Regions from separate parts of the Homo sapiens genome. Here region 2 is linked to region 1. Evidence: fine-mapped QTL for protein levels in blood plasma. A gene starts in region 1. The other region holds a variant in brackets. All regions are shown on one strand. Distances are between the middles of the regions. Region 1 holds the start of ICAM5 (intercellular adhesion molecule 5). Region 2 overlaps ICAM5 (intercellular adhesion molecule 5).

What was found. PIP is the posterior inclusion probability: the model's chance that the variant is causal. Protein levels are from antibody-based Olink assays in UK Biobank. Linkage for the fine-mapping came from a reference panel and not from the study's own genotypes, which makes the PIPs less certain.
Region 2: its variant is fine-mapped to the plasma level of the ICAM5 protein (UK Biobank, PIP 0.97).

Annotation. Positions count from the first base shown.
Region 1 is chr19:10,283,774-10,292,499 of GRCh38, forward strand. ICAM5 (intercellular adhesion molecule 5) reads left to right here and starts at 6,179. Exons shown (of 11, transcript NM_003259.4): 1 at 6,179-6,352; 2 at 7,299-7,568; 3 at 7,716-8,036; 4 at 8,262-8,549. The coding sequence starts at 6,271. ICAM1 (intercellular adhesion molecule 1) reads left to right here. Exons shown (of 7, transcript NM_000201.3): 3 at 1-13; 4 at 260-547; 5 at 630-884; 6 at 1,010-1,255; 7 at 1,342-2,842. The coding sequence ends at 1,514. It overlaps ICAM4 (intercellular adhesion molecule 4 (Landsteiner-Wiener blood group)), which reads left to right and starts at 3,182. Exons shown (of 3, transcript NM_001544.5): 1 at 3,182-3,633; 2 at 3,763-4,065; 3 at 4,213-4,747. The coding sequence starts at 3,240. The coding sequence ends at 4,331. ICAM4-AS1 (ICAM4 antisense RNA 1) reads right to left here and starts at 5,246. Exons shown (of 1, transcript NR_186335.1): 1 at 2,028-5,246. RefSeq lists enhancers at 2,750-2,799, 2,854-3,823, 3,170-3,309, 8,034-8,726 and silencers at 5,034-5,103, 7,574-7,643, 8,654-8,726.
Region 2 is chr19:10,294,754-10,304,266 of GRCh38, forward strand. It overlaps ICAM5 (intercellular adhesion molecule 5), which reads left to right. Exons shown (of 11, transcript NM_003259.4): 10 at 593-859; 11 at 1,586-2,025. The coding sequence ends at 1,863. Among named protein-coding and RNA genes, the nearest start is that of ICAM5, 9.6 kb to the left of the region's middle. RefSeq lists a cis regulatory region at 4,689-5,521, a silencer at 4,810-4,974 and an enhancer at 4,881-5,130. The variant C/T (reference allele first, on the strand shown) is at 5,251.

The DNA.
Region 1 (8,726 bases):
CTCCAGACCTTTGGTGAGGATTGAAGAAGCCAGCAGGGAGAAGGTGGGGGTGGGGTATCCTGCAATGCGGTGCCTGTGGCCACAGGATCTTTTGAGATGGGTGTGGCCCCGGCTAAGGGGTGCATGTGTTCTAGGCGTATGTGACCTAGGCTGCTGAGTGGCCCTGGAAGAGGATCTCGCAGGAGGGGGAATGAAATGCCCCAGAGAAGGGCTTCGGGACGTCCATCCCTGTCTGCTCACACCTTTCTTCTCTCCCTAGTCCTGCCAGCGACTCCCCCACAACTTGTCAGCCCCCGGGTCCTAGAGGTGGACACGCAGGGGACCGTGGTCTGTTCCCTGGACGGGCTGTTCCCAGTCTCGGAGGCCCAGGTCCACCTGGCACTGGGGGACCAGAGGTTGAACCCCACAGTCACCTATGGCAACGACTCCTTCTCGGCCAAGGCCTCAGTCAGTGTGACCGCAGAGGACGAGGGCACCCAGCGGCTGACGTGTGCAGTAATACTGGGGAACCAGAGCCAGGAGACACTGCAGACAGTGACCATCTACAGTAAGAAGGGGCAGGGGCGGAGTGGGGCTTCTTGGGGGTGTGACCTGAACCCGGGGCGGGGCTCACTGTGTGCCTATTCCAGGCTTTCCGGCGCCCAACGTGATTCTGACGAAGCCAGAGGTCTCAGAAGGGACCGAGGTGACAGTGAAGTGTGAGGCCCACCCTAGAGCCAAGGTGACGCTGAATGGGGTTCCAGCCCAGCCACTGGGCCCGAGGGCCCAGCTCCTGCTGAAGGCCACCCCAGAGGACAACGGGCGCAGCTTCTCCTGCTCTGCAACCCTGGAGGTGGCCGGCCAGCTTATACACAAGAACCAGACCCGGGAGCTTCGTGTCCTGTGTGAGTGGGGCTGCTGGTCAATGGCCCCTATCCCCCAAGGCCCAATCTCCCTGAAGGTCCCATAAGGTCTTGCCTCCAAGTCCTGCCCCCACCCACCTCCATGTCATCTCATCGTGTTTTTCCAGATGGCCCCCGACTGGACGAGAGGGATTGTCCGGGAAACTGGACGTGGCCAGAAAATTCCCAGCAGACTCCAATGTGCCAGGCTTGGGGGAACCCATTGCCCGAGCTCAAGTGTCTAAAGGATGGCACTTTCCCACTGCCCATCGGGGAATCAGTGACTGTCACTCGAGATCTTGAGGGCACCTACCTCTGTCGGGCCAGGAGCACTCAAGGGGAGGTCACCCGCAAGGTGACCGTGAATGTGCTCTGTGAGTGAGCCGGCGGGCAGAGCTGGGTGGGGGCAGGGGCCATGGACCTAATGCAATCCTCACCGCCTGTTGTATCCTCCCCACAGCCCCCCGGTATGAGATTGTCATCATCACTGTGGTAGCAGCCGCAGTCATAATGGGCACTGCAGGCCTCAGCACGTACCTCTATAACCGCCAGCGGAAGATCAAGAAATACAGACTACAACAGGCCCAAAAAGGGACCCCCATGAAACCGAACACACAAGCCACGCCTCCCTGAACCTATCCCGGGACAGGGCCTCTTCCTCGGCCTTCCCATATTGGTGGCAGTGGTGCCACACTGAACAGAGTGGAAGACATATGCCATGCAGCTACACCTACCGGCCCTGGGACGCCGGAGGACAGGGCATTGTCCTCAGTCAGATACAACAGCATTTGGGGCCATGGTACCTGCACACCTAAAACACTAGGCCACGCATCTGATCTGTAGTCACATGACTAAGCCAAGAGGAAGGAGCAAGACTCAAGACATGATTGATGGATGTTAAAGTCTAGCCTGATGAGAGGGGAAGTGGTGGGGGAGACATAGCCCCACCATGAGGACATACAACTGGGAAATACTGAAACTTGCTGCCTATTGGGTATGCTGAGGCCCCACAGACTTACAGAAGAAGTGGCCCTCCATAGACATGTGTAGCATCAAAACACAAAGGCCCACACTTCCTGACGGATGCCAGCTTGGGCACTGCTGTCTACTGACCCCAACCCTTGATGATATGTATTTATTCATTTGTTATTTTACCAGCTATTTATTGAGTGTCTTTTATGTAGGCTAAATGAACATAGGTCTCTGGCCTCACGGAGCTCCCAGTCCTAATCACATTCAAGGTCACCAGGTACAGTTGTACAGGTTGTACACTGCAGGAGAGTGCCTGGCAAAAAGATCAAATGGGGCTGGGACTTCTCATTGGCCAACCTGCCTTTCCCCAGAAGGAGTGATTTTTCTATCGGCACAAAAGCACTATATGGACTGGTAATGGTTACAGGTTCAGAGATTACCCAGTGAGGCCTTATTCCTCCCTTCCCCCCAAAACTGACACCTTTGTTAGCCACCTCCCCACCCACATACATTTCTGCCAGTGTTCACAATGACACTCAGCGGTCATGTCTGGACATGAGTGCCCAGGGAATATGCCCAAGCTATGCCTTGTCCTCTTGTCCTGTTTGCATTTCACTGGGAGCTTGCACTATGCAGCTCCAGTTTCCTGCAGTGATCAGGGTCCTGCAAGCAGTGGGGAAGGGGGCCAAGGTATTGGAGGACTCCCTCCCAGCTTTGGAAGCCTCATCCGCGTGTGTGTGTGTGTGTATGTGTAGACAAGCTCTCGCTCTGTCACCCAGGCTGGAGTGCAGTGGTGCAATCATGGTTCACTGCAGTCTTGACCTTTTGGGCTCAAGTGATCCTCCCACCTCAGCCTCCTGAGTAGCTGGGACCATAGGCTCACAACACCACACCTGGCAAATTTGATTTTTTTTTTTTTTCCAGAGACGGGGTCTCGCAACATTGCCCAGACTTCCTTTGTGTTAGTTAATAAAGCTTTCTCAACTGCCTCAGCCTTGTGTGAGTTGAGGGGAGGTGTCACATCCAGCTGGAGTCCTTTCTAAGCAGCCACAGCCTGATCCTCCCACTTCCTCCCCCAAGAAAACATTGTGGGTTGATGGCCATACCCTGAGGTTCTGGTCCAAATCGGACTTTCTATGACCTTCTGGGTCTCTAGTGAAAACTAAAGACTCCTCTCCAGAAAAAAACATTTGGTTTCTAATGAGGCCTGGAATCTTATTCTTGACCTGGGGAGCGGAATCCCTTTTTGCAGTACTCCCGGGCCCTCTGTTGGGGCCTCCCCTTCCTCTCCAGGGTGGAGTCGAGGAGGCGGGGCTGCGGGCCTCCTTATCTCTAGAGCCGGCCCTGGCTCTCTGGCGCGGGGCCCCTTAGTCCGGGCTTTTTGCCATGGGGTCTCTGTTCCCTCTGTCGCTGCTGTTTTTTTTGGCGGCCGCCTACCCGGGAGTTGGGAGCGCGCTGGGACGCCGGACTAAGCGGGCGCAAAGCCCCAAGGGTAGCCCTCTCGCGCCCTCCGGGACCTCAGTGCCCTTCTGGGTGCGCATGAGCCCGGAGTTCGTGGCTGTGCAGCCGGGGAAGTCAGTGCAGCTCAATTGCAGCAACAGCTGTCCCCAGCCGCAGAATTCCAGCCTCCGCACCCCGCTGCGGCAAGGCAAGACGCTCAGAGGGCCGGGTTGGGTGTCTTACCAGCTGCTCGACGTGAGGGCCTGGAGCTCCCTCGCGCACTGCCTCGTGACCTGCGCAGGAAAAACACGCTGGGCCACCTCCAGGATCACCGCCTACAGTGAGGGACAGGGGCTCGGTCCCGGCTGGGGTGAGGGGAGGGGGCTGGAAGAGGTGGGGGAAGGGTAGTTGACAGTCGCTCTATAGGGAGCGCCCGCGGACCTCACTCAGAGGCTCCCCCTTGCCTTAGAACCGCCCCACAGCGTGATTTTGGAGCCTCCGGTCTTAAAGGGCAGGAAATACACTTTGCGCTGCCACGTGACGCAGGTGTTCCCGGTGGGCTACTTGGTGGTGACCCTGAGGCATGGAAGCCGGGTCATCTATTCCGAAAGCCTGGAGCGCTTCACCGGCCTGGATCTGGCCAACGTGACCTTGACCTACGAGTTTGCTGCTGGACCCCGCGACTTCTGGCAGCCCGTGATCTGCCACGCGCGCCTCAATCTCGACGGCCTGGTGGTCCGCAACAGCTCGGCACCCATTACACTGATGCTCGGTGAGGCACCCCTGTAACCCTGGGGACTAGGAGGAAGGGGGCAGAGAGAGTTATGACCCCGAGAGGGCGCACAGACCAAGCGTGAGCTCCACGCGGGTCGACAGACCTCCCTGTGTTCCGTTCCTAATTCTCGCCTTCTGCTCCCAGCTTGGAGCCCCGCGCCCACAGCTTTGGCCTCCGGTTCCATCGCTGCCCTTGTAGGGATCCTCCTCACTGTGGGCGCTGCGTACCTATGCAAGTGCCTAGCTATGAAGTCCCAGGCGTAAAGGGGGATGTTCTATGCCGGCTGAGCGAGAAAAAGAGGAATATGAAACAATCTGGGGAAATGGCCATACATGGTGGCTGACGCCTGTAATCCCAGCACTTTGGGAGGCCGAGGCAGGAGAATCGCTTGAGCCCAGGAGTTCGAGACCAGCCTGGACAACATAGTGAGACCCCGTCTATGCAAAAAATACACAAATTAGCCTGGTGTGGTGGCCCGCACCTGTGGTCCCAGCTACCCGGGAGGCTGAGTTGGGAGGATCCTTTGAGCCCTGAAAGTCGAGGTTGCAGTGAGCCTTGATCGTGCCACTGCACTCCAGCCTGGGGGACAGAGCACGACCCTGTCTCCAAAAATAAAATAAAAATAAAAATAAATATTGGCGGGGGAACCCTCTGGAATCAATAAAGGCTTCCTTAACCAGCCTCTGTCCTGTGACCTAAGGGTCCGCATTACTGCCCTTCTTCGGAGGAACTGGTTTGTTTTTGTTGTTGTTGTTGTTTTTGCGATCACTTTCTCCAAGTTCCTTGTCTCCCTGAGGGCACCTGAGGTTTCCTCACTCAGGGCCCACCTGGGGTCCCGAAGCCCCAGACTCTGTGTATCCCCAGCGGGTGTCACAGAAACCTCTCCTTCTGCTGGCCTTATCGAGTGGGATCAGCGCGGGCCGGGGAGAGCCACGGGCAGGGGCGGGGTGGGGTTCATGGTATGGCTTTCCTGATTGGCGCCGCCGCCACCACGCGGCAGCTCTGATTGGATGTTAAGTTTCCTATCCCAGCCCCACCTTCAGACCCTGTGCTTTCCTGGAGGCCAAACAACTGTGGAGCGAGAACTCATCTCCAAAATAACTTACCACGCTGGAGTGAGACCACGAATGGTGGGGAGGGGAGGGTCCCACGGACATATTGAGGGACGTGGATACGCAGAAGAGGTATCCATGTGGTGGCAGCCGGGAAGGGGTGATCAGATGGTCCACAGGGAATATCACAAACTCGAATTCTGACGATGTTCTGGTAGTCACCCAGCCAGATGAGCGCATGGAGTTGGGGGTGGGGGGTGTCAAAGCTTGGGGCCCGGAAGCGGAGTCAAAAGCATCACCCTCGGTCCCTTGTTCTCGCGTGGATGTCAGGGCCCCCACCCACCGAGCAGAAGGCGGACTCAGGGGCGCTCCAGGGTGGCTCGAGCTCACACACGCTGAGTAGACACGTGCCCGCTGCACCCTGGGTAAATACAGACCCGGAGCCGAGCGGATTCTAATTTAGACGCCCGCGAACGCTGCGCGCACGCACACGTGTCCTCGGCTCGCTGGCACTTTCGTCCCGCCCCCTCCGTCGCGTGCGGGAGCTGACCCGGAGGGGTGCTTAGAGGTATGGCTCCGCGGGGTCAAAAGGAGAAGGATCAGTGAGAGAGGCATCCCCACACCCTCCCCTAGAACTGTCCTTTCCCCATCCAGTGCCTCCCAAATCTCTCTTAGTCCCCAAATGTATCCCCGCCCTAAGGGGCGCTGGTGGGAGGAGCTAAATGTGGGGGCGGGGCTCGGAGTCCAGCTTATTATCATGGCATCTCAGCCAGGGCTGGGGTAGGGGTTTGGGAAGGGCAACCCAGCATCCCCCGATCCCAGAGTCGCGGCCGGGGATGACGCGAGAGAGCGTGGTCGCCCCCAGAAGGCCCTGGGCCATCATGCCGGCCTCCACGTAGACCCCAGGGGTCGCTCACTCCTGCCAGCTCGCCTTCACCAAGGCCAGGAGCTTAGCGCACGCTCGCCTCCCGCCCCCCCGCCGCCTCTGCCGCCGCCCCCTCCTTGGAAACCAAGTTACCAACGTTAAACCAATCCCCAAGCGCAACTCTGCCTCCCCCACACCCCACCCGCCGCGCCGCGCGGAGCCGTCCTCTAGCCCAGCTCCTCGGCTCGCGCTCTCCTCGCCTCCTGTGCTTTCCCCGCCGCGGCGATGCCAGGGCCTTCGCCAGGGCTGCGCCGGGCGCTACTCGGCCTCTGGGCTGCTCTGGGCCTGGGGCTCTTCGGCCTCTCAGGTAAGAGCCCCGCTCTGGTTCGGGGTGGACAGGGCGGGGGCGGAGTCCCTGGACCTGAGAAACGGCCTCCTGTCCCTCCCAGCTCTGCCCTCGCCTCGCTCCCACGCCTCTGCCCCCACCTCGAGCCTGAGTCTTCTCCCCTTCCCCCTCCTCCCCAACACACACCCGAGCCCCAGCTTCCTGACTCCTCGATAGCCCCTACCCGCTTCGAGATCCTAGGTGTTCTTCCGCACCCAACCCTTCGCCCTGGAGACCCAGTGTCTCTCCTGTCCGCTCCCCGGGTACCTCCTTACGCTGTGCTGTGCACCATGGTCCACGGACTGGCATCTTCCCCACTCGCGGTCCGCGAAGACTCCATCTCTCCAACTACCCTGACTCAGAGGCGCTGTTCCCGCTCCACCCAGAGCCCTGGCAACCGGGTCCCTCAGCTGTTCCCGCGGTTCCTTCCATGAGCCCAGCCTTGCGTCCCGGCTCCGTGTTCTTCACCGGGTGTAGGGTCCTTCCTGATCCTTGACCCAGCCTCGTCTCTCCTTTGCCCTTGCCGCAAACGCACTCTCCTCGTATCCCGGCATTCTGCCAGGACCCTGAGAACTGGTTCATCCCCCATCCCCCATCCCGGGTCCCCTTCTCTCAGCCTTGCTGTGTTCATCCAAGAACCCACCTTTCCTCTCCTCTACGCCCTCCCCCCATGCTTTCCCGCCGCTCCATCGGCGCTTTGGAGACCATGGCTCTCTGCTACCACGTCCCAGAGACACCCTCGAGGTTTAGACTCTGGGAGTGCGCCTTTAAACCGGAGGCCTGGGCAGGACGCGGGACGCCTGGGTTCTTTCCCTGGCTGCAGCCTCTCCTCCTCCTCCCCGCCCTCTGAGAACCCTTGACTCGACATAGGGGCGCTAAGATGTCAGGGAGTTGGCTCCCCAGGCTCAGCCCGCGTTTCCCTGGGCAGCGGTCTCGCAGGAGCCCTTCTGGGCGGACCTGCAGCCTCGCGTGGCGTTCGTGGAGCGCGGGGGCTCGCTGTGGCTGAATTGCAGCACCAACTGCCCTCGGCCGGAGCGCGGTGGCCTGGAGACCTCGCTGCGCCGAAACGGGACCCAGAGGGGTTTGCGTTGGTTGGCGCGGCAGCTGGTGGACATTCGCGAGCCGGAGACTCAGCCCGTCTGCTTCTTCCGCTGCGCGCGGCGCACACTACAGGCGCGTGGGCTCATTCGCACTTTCCGTGAGTTCTGGGTGGCCACGCGCGTACTCCACTACTCTCCCTCCCTCCCAGGCCCCGCCCCCTGGGTCCCAGGGTCCTCCCCTTCAGGCCCCACCTTCTGTTCCAAGTCCCGGTGTTCAAAGAGCTGCGGACTCTTCCCCCTTGCAGAGCGACCAGATCGCGTAGAGCTGATGCCGCTGCCTCCCTGGCAGCCGGTGGGCGAGAACTTCACCCTGAGCTGTAGGGTCCCCGGCGCCGGGCCCCGTGCGAGCCTCACGCTGACCCTGCTGCGGGGCGCCCAGGAGCTGATCCGCCGCAGCTTCGCCGGTGAACCACCCCGAGCGCGGGGCGCGGTGCTCACAGCCACGGTACTGGCTCGGAGGGAGGACCATGGAGCCAATTTCTCGTGTCGCGCCGAGCTGGACCTGCGGCCGCACGGACTGGGACTGTTTGAAAACAGCTCGGCCCCCAGAGAGCTCCGAACCTTCTGTGAGTGGGTGTGGGGAGGAGATGGGGACCCAGTGGGGTCGGTCGGTGTTTAGGAGGTTTAGAGGTAGATACATCTGAATGCTGACCCCGACTTCAACCCTCGCCGGCTGAGCTGTTTCCCCCTCCGTGCCTTGAGGATGATAATACGATAAGATAGTGCATGTCAAGTGCTTAGGACATATTGAGCGCTCGGAGTTAGTTCAAACTTGGTTCTTCGACCCCTAGCCCTGTCTCCGGATGCCCCGCGCCTCGCTGCTCCCCGGCTCTTGGAAGTTGGCTCGGAAAGGCCCGTGAGCTGCACTCTGGACGGACTGTTTCCAGCCTCAGAGGCCAGGGTCTACCTCGCACTGGGGGACCAGAATCTGAGTCCTGATGTCACCCTCGAAGGGGACGCATTCGTGGCCACTGCCACAGCCACAGCTAGCGCAGAGCAGGAGGGTGCCAGGCAGCTGGTCTGCAACGTCACCCTGGGGGGCGAAAACCGGGAGACCCGGGAGAACGTGACCATCTACAGTAAGGAAGGAGGCGGGGTCTCCGCGGCTCCGAGGTGGGACCAGAGGAATGCGAAGGCGGGGCGAAGAGTGGGCGGGACCTCAGTACCGGAACAGGCGTGGCCCGAGGGGCGGGGCAGGTGGGGGCGGAGACGTAATCGCTGGGGAGGAGGAGCCTGTACAGCCTGAGAGGCGGGGC
Region 2 (9,513 bases), 11 kb after region 1:
CAGCCTAAACCAGGGGGTAATGAAAATTCTAGCCAGGCGCAGTGGCTCAGGTCTGTAATCCCAACACTTTGGAAGGTTGAGGCGGATGAATCACTTGAGGCCAGGAGTTCGAGACCAGCCCGGCCAACATGGCGAAAACCCGTCTCTACAAAAATTAGCCGGTCGTGGTGGTGGGCGCCTGTGGTCCCAGCTACTTGGGAGGCTGAGGCAGGAGAATCGCTTGAGCCTGGGAGGCAGAGGTTGCAGGGAGCCGAGATCCCGCCACTGCACTCCAGCCTGGGCAACAGAGTGAGACTCTTTCTTAGAAAAACAGAAAAAGAAAATTATAGGGAATAGGAGCACGGCCCTCCTCAAATCCTGGATTAGAACACTGACCTGGGCTTCACCTCCTTCCATTCGGTGAAGAAGGGCGAGGAATTTTAGCCGCAACAGCAGCCTGATTGTCGGGGAAGGAGGCTCTGATAGGAGGCAGGATCCTCTTCTGCCCATCAGAGGCGCGGTGGTCTCCCATCGATCGTTGTGGGCCGGAGCAGGGCATTTGATCAGTGGCTGGGCCGGCGCTAAGCCCCACTTCACCTTCTGTGCCCTTCAGACCGGCCAGTGGTGGCCGAACTTGCTGCCTCGCCCCCTGGAGGCGTGCGCCCAGGAGGAAACTTCACGTTGACCTGCCGCGCGGAGGCCTGGCCTCCAGCCCAGATCAGCTGGCGCGCGCCCCCGGGGGCCCTCAACATCGGCCTGTCGAGCAACAACAGCACACTGAGCGTGGCAGGCGCCATGGGAAGCCACGGCGGCGAGTACGAGTGCGCAGCCACCAACGCGCACGGGCGCCACGCGCGGCGCATCACGGTGCGCGTGGCCGGTAAGTGGCAGCTGGGGAGAGGCGGGGCGAGGTATCTGAGAGGGGGCGTGACCTGGGTCTTGGGGCGGCCGGCCCCGCCTGCCTCCCTCTCGGTCCCGGTAGACTAGACGGAAGTGGGACAGAGTAGAAGTCAAAGGTGCCTTAGCGGGTGGGGCTGTTGATCGCACTTTGAGGGGTGGGAGATGGAGGTGGCAGGGGGACTGAATTCAAGGGGAGGGACCCTCCGGGGCTGTCACTGCTGCAGGAAAGGACTTTAAAACTTGGGCTGGATTCTGCGTGGTGGAAACTTGACCCAATTCACAATCCACTGTGGGGAAGATTGGGGAGGGACCAAAGTCATTGGATGTTGGAGGGAGAGAGGGGTCAAGATCGCCTTCTCTCACTTCCTGAAGCTCCTGGGGCTGGGTTCTCTCTGGGGTCGGGGGAACCTGACCTGGTCCTGCCGGTCCTCATTTTTTGGGGGATGGGGAGAGTTGACTTGTCGCCAGGGGGCTAAGTGTGGTCACGGGTTTATATCCCCATGGGCTGAAGTGCGATATAAATCGGGACTCGGGTCGCCCTGGCACTGGGAGTGGCCTTATTGCATGGGTTGTCTCCCTTCTCCCAAGGCCAGACAGTGAGCTCCCCGGGGCATGAGGACTGACTTCGTGCCTGTGGGAGTGCGGGGGGCGGTGGGAGAAGCCCCCCGGAGCTTGGCCACCCTCCGCGAGGGTCTCCACCCCGCAGGTCCGTGGCTATGGGTCGCCGTGGGCGGCGCGGCGGGGGGCGCGGCGCTGCTGGCCGCGGGGGCCGGCCTGGCCTTCTACGTGCAGTCCACCGCCTGCAAGAAGGGCGAGTACAACGTGCAGGAGGCCGAGAGCTCAGGCGAGGCCGTGTGTCTGAACGGAGCGGGCGGCGGCGCTGGCGGGGCGGCAGGCGCGGAGGGCGGACCCGAGGCGGCGGGGGGCGCGGCCGAGTCGCCGGCGGAGGGCGAGGTCTTCGCCATACAGCTGACATCGGCGTGAGCCCGCTCCCCTCTCCCCGCGGGCCGGGGGACGCCCCCCAGACTCACACGGGGGCTTATTTATTGCTTTATTTATTTACTTATTCATTTATTTATGTATTCAACTCCAAGGGCGTCACCCCCATTTTCTACCCATCCCCTCAATAAAGTTTTTATAAAGGAACTCCCTGTCTCCGCTTCTGTTTCTGCAAGGTGGAACAAGCCCAGGGTTCCAGTCGTGACCTCCCGAGTTATTCATTCAAAAAGCGATTTTTGAGAGGGCCTGGGGTGGTGGCTTAGGCCTGTAATCCCAGGACTTGTGGGAGGCCCAGGTGGGAGGATCCCTTGCACCCAAGAGTTTCAGACCAGCCTGGGCAACATAGGGAGACCCTACAAAAAATATTTTTCAAAAATTAGCCAAGGCCGGTCGCGGTGGCTCATGCGTGTAATCCCAGGACTTTGGAAGGCCGAGGCGGCCAGATCACGAGGTCGAGGTCATGAGATCGAGACCATCCTGGCCAATATGGTGAAACCCTGTCTCTACTAAAAATACAAAAATTAGCTGGGCATGGTGGTGCGCGCCTGTAGTCCCAGCTATTCGGGAGGCTGAGGCAGGAGAATCGCTTTAACCCCGGAGGCAGAGGTTGCAGTGAGCCGAGATCGTGCCACTGAACTCCAGCCTGGCGACAGAGCGAGATTCCGTCTTAAAAAAAAAACCAGGCGTGGTGGCTCACGCCTGTAATCCCAGCACTTTGGGAGGCCGAGGCGGGCGGATCACGAGGTCGGGAGATCGAGACCATCCTCGCTAACACGGTGAAACCCCGTCTCTACTAAAAATACAAAAAAAAAAAAAAAAAAAAAATTAGCCGAGCGTGGTGGCGGGCGCCTGTAGTCCCAGCTACTCAGGAGGCTGAGGCAGGAGAATGGCATGAACCCGGGGAGCAGAGCTTGCAGTGAGCCGAGATCGCGCCACTGCACTCCACCCTGGCAGACAGCAAGACTCCGTCTCAAAAAAAAAAAAAAAAATTAGCCAGGGCCGAGCACAGTACTCTCGCTTGAATCCCAGAACTTTGGGAAACTAAGGCGGGGGGGGGGGGTCACTTGAGGTCAGGAGTTCGAGACCACCCTGGCCAACGTGGTGAAACACCTTCTCTACCAAAAATACAAAAAAATTAAGGCCGGGTGAAGTGGCTCACGTCTGTAATCCCAGCACTTTGCGAGGCTGAGGCGGGCGGATCATGGGGTTAGAAGATCAAGACTGTCCTGGCTAACATGGTGAAACCCCGTCACTACTAAAAACACAAAAATTAGCCGGGCGTGGTGGCACATGCCTGTAGTCCCAGCTACTCAAGAGGCTGAGGCAGGAGAATCGCTTTAACCCCGGAGGCAGAGGTTGCAGTGAGCCAAGATCGCACCACTGCACTCCAGCCTGGGCAATAGAGCGAGACTCTGTCTCAAAAAAAAACCAAAAACAAAAACAAAAAAATACAAAAATTTAGCTGGGCTGTAGTGGCACACGCCCTGTAATCCCAGCTACTCGTGAGGCTGAGGCAGGAGAATTGCTAGAACCCGGGAGGTAGAGATCTTGCCATTGCACTCCAGCCTGGGCAACAGAACTAGACTCTGTCTCAAAAAAAAAAAAAAAAAAAAAAAAGTGTTTTTTGAGGGGGCTGGGCATGGTGGCTCAAGCCTGTAATCCCAGGACTTTTGGGAGGCCCAGGTGGGAGGATCCCTTGTGCCCACGAGTTTCAGACCAGCCTGGGCAACATAGCGAGACCCTACAAAAAAACATGTTTCAAAAAAAAATTTTTTTTTTTGAGATGGAGTCTCGCTCTGTCGCCCAGGCTGGACAGCAGTGGCACTATCTCTGCTCACTGCAAGCTCCGTCTCCCGGGTTCATGCCATTCTCCTGCCTCAGCCTCCCAAGTAGCTGGGATTACAGGCGCCTGCCACCACACCCAGCTAATTTTTTTTTGTATTTTTAGTAGAGATGGGATTTCACCGTGTTCGCCAGGATGGTCTCTATTCCTGACCTCGAGATCCACCCGCCTCAGCCTCCCAAAGTGCTGGGATTACAGGCGTGAGCCACCGCGCCCGGCCTCAAAAAAAAAATTTTTTTTTTGAGATGGAGTCTTGCTCTGTCACCCAGGCTGGAGTGCTGTGGTGTGATCTTGGCTCACTGCAACCTCTGCCTCCTGGGTTCAAGCAATTCCCCTGCCTTGGCTTCCCAAATAGCTGGGACTATAGGCATGCACCACCACACCCAGCTAATTTTTGTATTTTTAGTAGAGACAGGGTTTCACCATGTTGGCCAGGCTGGTCTCGAACTCCTGACCTAAGGTGATCCACCTGCCTCGGTCTCCCAAAGTGCTGGGATTACAGCTGTAAGCCACCATGCCTGGTGTATTTTTCAAAAATTAGCCAGACATGGTGGTGCATGCCTGTAGTCCCAGCTACTTGGGAGGCTGAGGCAGGAGGATCCTTTGAGCCTAGGAGGTCAAAGCCACTTCCAGCTATGATATCGTCATTGTGCTCCAGCCCAGGTGACAGAACCAGACCCTGTCTCTAAAAACAAACAACGAAAAAATCCAAAAACTTTTTTTGAACACCTACTATGCATCAGGCACAATCTAAGCTGTCTTTTTCTTTTTCTTTTTTTTTTTTTTTTGAGACGGAGTCTCTCTGTCGCCCAGGCTGGAGTGCAGTGGTGTAATCTCAGCTCACTGCAAGCTCTGCCTCCCACGTTCAAGCGATTTTCCTGCCTCAGCCTCCTGAGTAGCTGGGATTACAGGCGCGCGCCACCACTACGCCCGGCTAATTTTTGTATTTTTAGTAGAGACAGGGTTTCACCATGTTGGTCAGGCTAGTCTGGAACTACTGACCTCGTGATTCACCTGCCTCGGTCTCCCAACGTGCTGGAATTACAAGCCTGAGCCACTGTGCCTGGCCCGGCTGGCTGTCTTTTCTCAGTGTGACCTAGAGCTCGTCCTCTCTCAGTGCCTGTTTTCTGCTCTCTTCACACCCTTGGGCAGGGGTGGGGGCCTCACTCCTTCCTCCTACTTATCTCTTCCACCCAGCACTGCCCTCTGATCCGGGTCACTCTTGGAGGTGGGGGCTAGGTGCTTCCCCCAGGCCTGGTTACCGGCAGAGCTGAGGCCGCCTTGCCAGGGTGGGTGGAGGCCCTCTCCGTTGTGCCCCTGCCCTGAGACTTCGGTGAGACCTTCCTGGGCAGGCACTGGCTGATGCTATGGGTGTCAGCCCTTAGCATGTCCTCCCTGTTAAAGGGGGCACCCCTGCCCCGCCCTCAATGCCTCCTTTGTCCTGTGTCCACCCACAGTGCTTCAGTTTACCCCCACCCTGCCTTTCCACTCAGCCCATCATGATTCAGAACAGACACACACAGGGTATC[C/T]GCTGCAACCCCCACTACACGGCACCTTCCCCCCTCATCCCCAACAGCATAAGGCACAGCAGCTGGGCCTCCTCCCCACAGCCTCCTCCTCTGCCCCTCCTCCCTCAAAAGCAGGAACACGGAGCCCTAGAGAAGGAAGCCAGTCCCATGCAAACATGTAATGAGCAAAGATGAGACGGGGAAATGGCACAAGAGGGCAGGCCAGTGCTCGGTGCTGGAGCCAGGGGCCAGGTATAACACCCAAAAAGGCACCAGCCAGGTGCAGTCCCTGCCACTAACAGCACCTCACCTTTTCTGCCTGTGCCCTCCCTACTTAATGATCTCTCTCCGCTCCTACTGACCTCAAGGTCTCTTTCAGAGCCTTCAGATGAGATATTTATTTTAGTAGGTTGGTGCAAAAGTAATTGCTGTTTTTGCCATTGAAAGTAATGGCAGGCAGGGCATGGTGGCTCACGCCTGTAATCCCAGCACTTTGGGAGGCCGAGGTGGGCAGATCACGAGGTCAGGAGTTCAAGACCAGCCTGGCTAACATGGTGAAACCCTGTCTCTACTAACAATACAAAAAAAATTAGCCGGACATGGTGGCACACCCCTGTAGTCTCAGCTACTTGGGAGGCTGAGGCAGGAGAACTGCTTGAACCCTGAAGCGGAGGCTGCAGTGAGCTGAAATCACGCCACTGCACTCCAGCCTGGGCCACAGAGTGAGACTGTCTCAGAGGAAAAAAAAAAAAAAAAAGTAATGGCAAAAACTGCAATTACTTTTTCTTTTTCTTTCTGTTTTTTTTTTTGTTTGTTTGTTTGTTTGTTTGTTTGTTTGAGACGGAGTCTCACTGTGTGGCCCAGGCTGGAGTGCAGTGGCGCAATCTTGGCTTACTGCAGCCTCCGCCTCCCAGGTTCAAGTGATTCTCTCCTGCCTCAGCCTCCCAATAGGATTACAGGCACCCACCACTATGCCTGGCTAATTTTTGTATCTTTAGCAGAGATGGGGTTTCACCATGTTTGCCAGGCTGGTCTCGAACTCCTGATCCACCCACCTCAGCTTCCCAAAGTGCTGGGATTACAGGCAGGCATGAGCCATGGTGCCCGACATTTTTTTTTTTTTTTCTTTTTTTTTTTGAGACAGAGTCTCACTTTGTCACCCAGGCTGGAGTGCAAAGGCAAGATCTCACTGCAGCCTCTGCCTCCTGGGTTAAAGCGATTCTCCCACCTTAGCCCCCTGAGTAGGTGAGATTACAGGCACATGCCACCACACCTGCCTAATTTTTGTATTTTTAATAGAGAGGGGGTTTCACCATTTTGTCCACGCTGGTCTCGAACTCCTGACCTCAAGGGATTCGCCCACCTCAGCCTCCCAAAGTGCTGGGATTACAGGCATGAGCCACCACGCCCGACCTCCTTAACTCTTTTATTTCCTTGCACACTTTTTCTCTGTAGCCCAGCTCACAACTTAACATCCTCTTAGACATACACCTGAGGTTTTTTTTTTTTTTTTTTTTGAGAGGGAGTCTCTCTCTGTCACCCAGGATGGAATGCAGTGGTGTGCTCTCAGCTCACTGCAACCTTGCAACCACTGCCTCCCAGGTTCAAGCAATTCTCCTGCCTCAGCCTCCCGAGTAGCTGGGACTACAGACACATGCCGCCACACCTGGCTGATTTTTTGTTTTTTAGTAGAGACAGGGTTTCACCGTGTTGCCCAGGCTGGTCTCAAACTCCTGAGTTCAGGCAGTCCGCCTGCCTTAGCCTTCCAAAATGCTGGGATTACAGGCATGAGGCACCGCGTCCTGCCTCTGAGTTTTTTTTTTTTTTTTTTTTTTACTGTCTCCTAGAACATCAGCCCCAGTAGAGCAGGGATCTTTGTTCTGTTCACCACTGAGGGTCCTCATTGGGTCCTAGCACACACAGTTGCTCAATAAATGTTGAATAAGTGGGTAAAGACAGCCACGAGCTTGCAGATATGTGTTCAAGGTGTGTCCTTGCAGAGAGCTTCTCTATACTTGGCACTGGAGAGGCCTGTCGTGGGCAAGGACATAGATGTGGCGACCTCAGACTTGAGAACTCCTGGGGCAGTAGGGGAGATGGATGTGGATAATGTAACCATAAGCCTTCCTTTCTATTTTAGACTGAGTGGTCAAGGAAGGCTTCCAGACAATGGAAATTCTGATAGGTTCTAAGAGGGAGACCAGCAAGGAGCTGAACCGGAGGCTGACACAGGGTGAGAGTGGGAATGTCTATTTTATTTTTTTTTTGGAGACAGGGTCTCACTCTGTTGCTCAGGCAGCAGTGCAGTGGCACGATCGTGGCTCACTGCAGCTTCAACTTCCCAGACTCAAGTGATCCTCCCACCTCAGCCTCCCAAGCAGCTGGGAATATAGGTGCATGCCACCACATCCGGCTAATTTTTGTATTTTTGGTAGAAACGGGGTTTCACCATGTTGCCCAGGCTGGTCTTGAACTCCTGGGTTCAAGTGATCTTGCTGCCTTGGGCTCCCAAAGTGCTTGGATTACAGGTGTGAGCCTGTGAGCCACATCTGGCCTATTTTATTTTTTAATTAGTTTTTTGTTTTTGTTTTTGTTTTGAGATGGAGTCTCTGTCTCCAAGGCTGGAGTGCAGTGGCACGATCTCGGCTCACTGTAACCTCCACCTCCCAAGTAGCTGGGATTACAGGCACATGCCACCACGCCTGGCTAATTTTTGTATCTTTAGTAGAGACAGGGTTTCCCCATGTTGGCCAGGCTGGTCTCGAACTCCTGACCTCCGGTGATCCACCTGCCTCAGTTTCCCAAAGTGCTGGGATTATAGGAATGAGCCACTCTGCCTGGCTGGGCATGTGTCTTGTTTTTTTCATTCTGTAGATAACAAGCAATTGTCCTCCCTCAGCCTCCCAAGTAGCTGGTACTACAGGCGCCTGCCACTACGCCCGGCTATTTTTTGTAGTTTTAGCAGAGGTGGGGTTTCACCATGTTAACCAGTCTCTAACTCCTGACCTCAGGTGATCCTCCTGCCTTGGCCTCCCAAAGTGCTGGAATTACAGGTGTGAGCCACCAAGCCCAGCCTCAAACTCCTGAGTTTAAGTGATCCTCACACCTCAGCCTCCCTGAGTGCTGGGATTACAGGTGTGAGCCACCACACCCGGCCTGAGTCGGGGGAGGTGTCTATTTTAGTCTGAGTGGTCAAGGAAGGCTTCTCTGAAGAGCTGATGTTGGGGCCAGGCCTCCTCAAGCGATTAGAAGGTGTCAGCCATGGGGAGATGTGGAGGGAGGGTGTTTCAGGCCAAGGAAGGGTAAGATCAAATAATTCAGGGATCTGAGGGCAGAGGAATCTGGACTCCAGTTCTCCCATTCAGGGCTGCCCAGGAGAGACAAAGAGGATCTCATAAGGGTGTGTGGCTTTGTGGCTCACTCACGCCCACAGCAAGGACCATGCCCACCCTACTTTTTTTTTTTTCCCCAAGTCTCCCTCTATTACCCAGGCTGGAGTACAGTGGTACGATCACGGTTCACTGCAGTCTTGACCTCCAGGGCTCAAGTGATCCTCCCACCTCAGTGTCCTGAGTAGCTGGCACTACAGGCATGCACCACCACCCCTGGCTCATTTTTTGATTTTTTGGTAGAGACGGGGTCTCACTGTGTTACCCAGGCTGGTCTCAAACTCCTGGGCTCAAGCGATCCTCCCACCTCTGCCTTCTGAAGTGTTGGGATTACAGGTGTGAGCCACCATGCCCAGCCCGCCACCAGTCTTGACTCTCCATCCTCCCTCCCTCCCTGTGAGTGCTGGTGGCCTGTGTGTCCCGCCTGCTGAAAGATGCCTCTGACTTGGGGCTTTTGACTTCAGGCCCGGGAGACACATTTTGGCTGGATTAGGGAGATCTTAAAAGGGGGTAGGGGACACAGCAGGGGCTAAGGAGAGTGACACACTGCAGGCAGGGGTTGGGTGACAGATGAAGGATCCACTGGTATATGCTGCCAGTGTGTGCCATCTACTTGTGTGTTTTACGTGTGTCTGGTGCATGTGTCCTGTGTGGGCTGTATCTGTGTGTGACTCAGCTACGTGTCAGCATATCCCTGTCGACGTGTGTCTCTGCTGATGTGTCTGTCAGCACGCACGGCTGTCTTGCATGTGTCTTTTTTGAGATAGAGTCTCGCTCTGTCACCCAGGCTGGAGTGCAGTGGCACGATCTTGGCTCATTGCAACCTCAACCTCCCAGGTTCAAGCGATTCTCCTGCCTGAGCCTCCCAAGTAGCTCGGATTACAGGCACATGCTA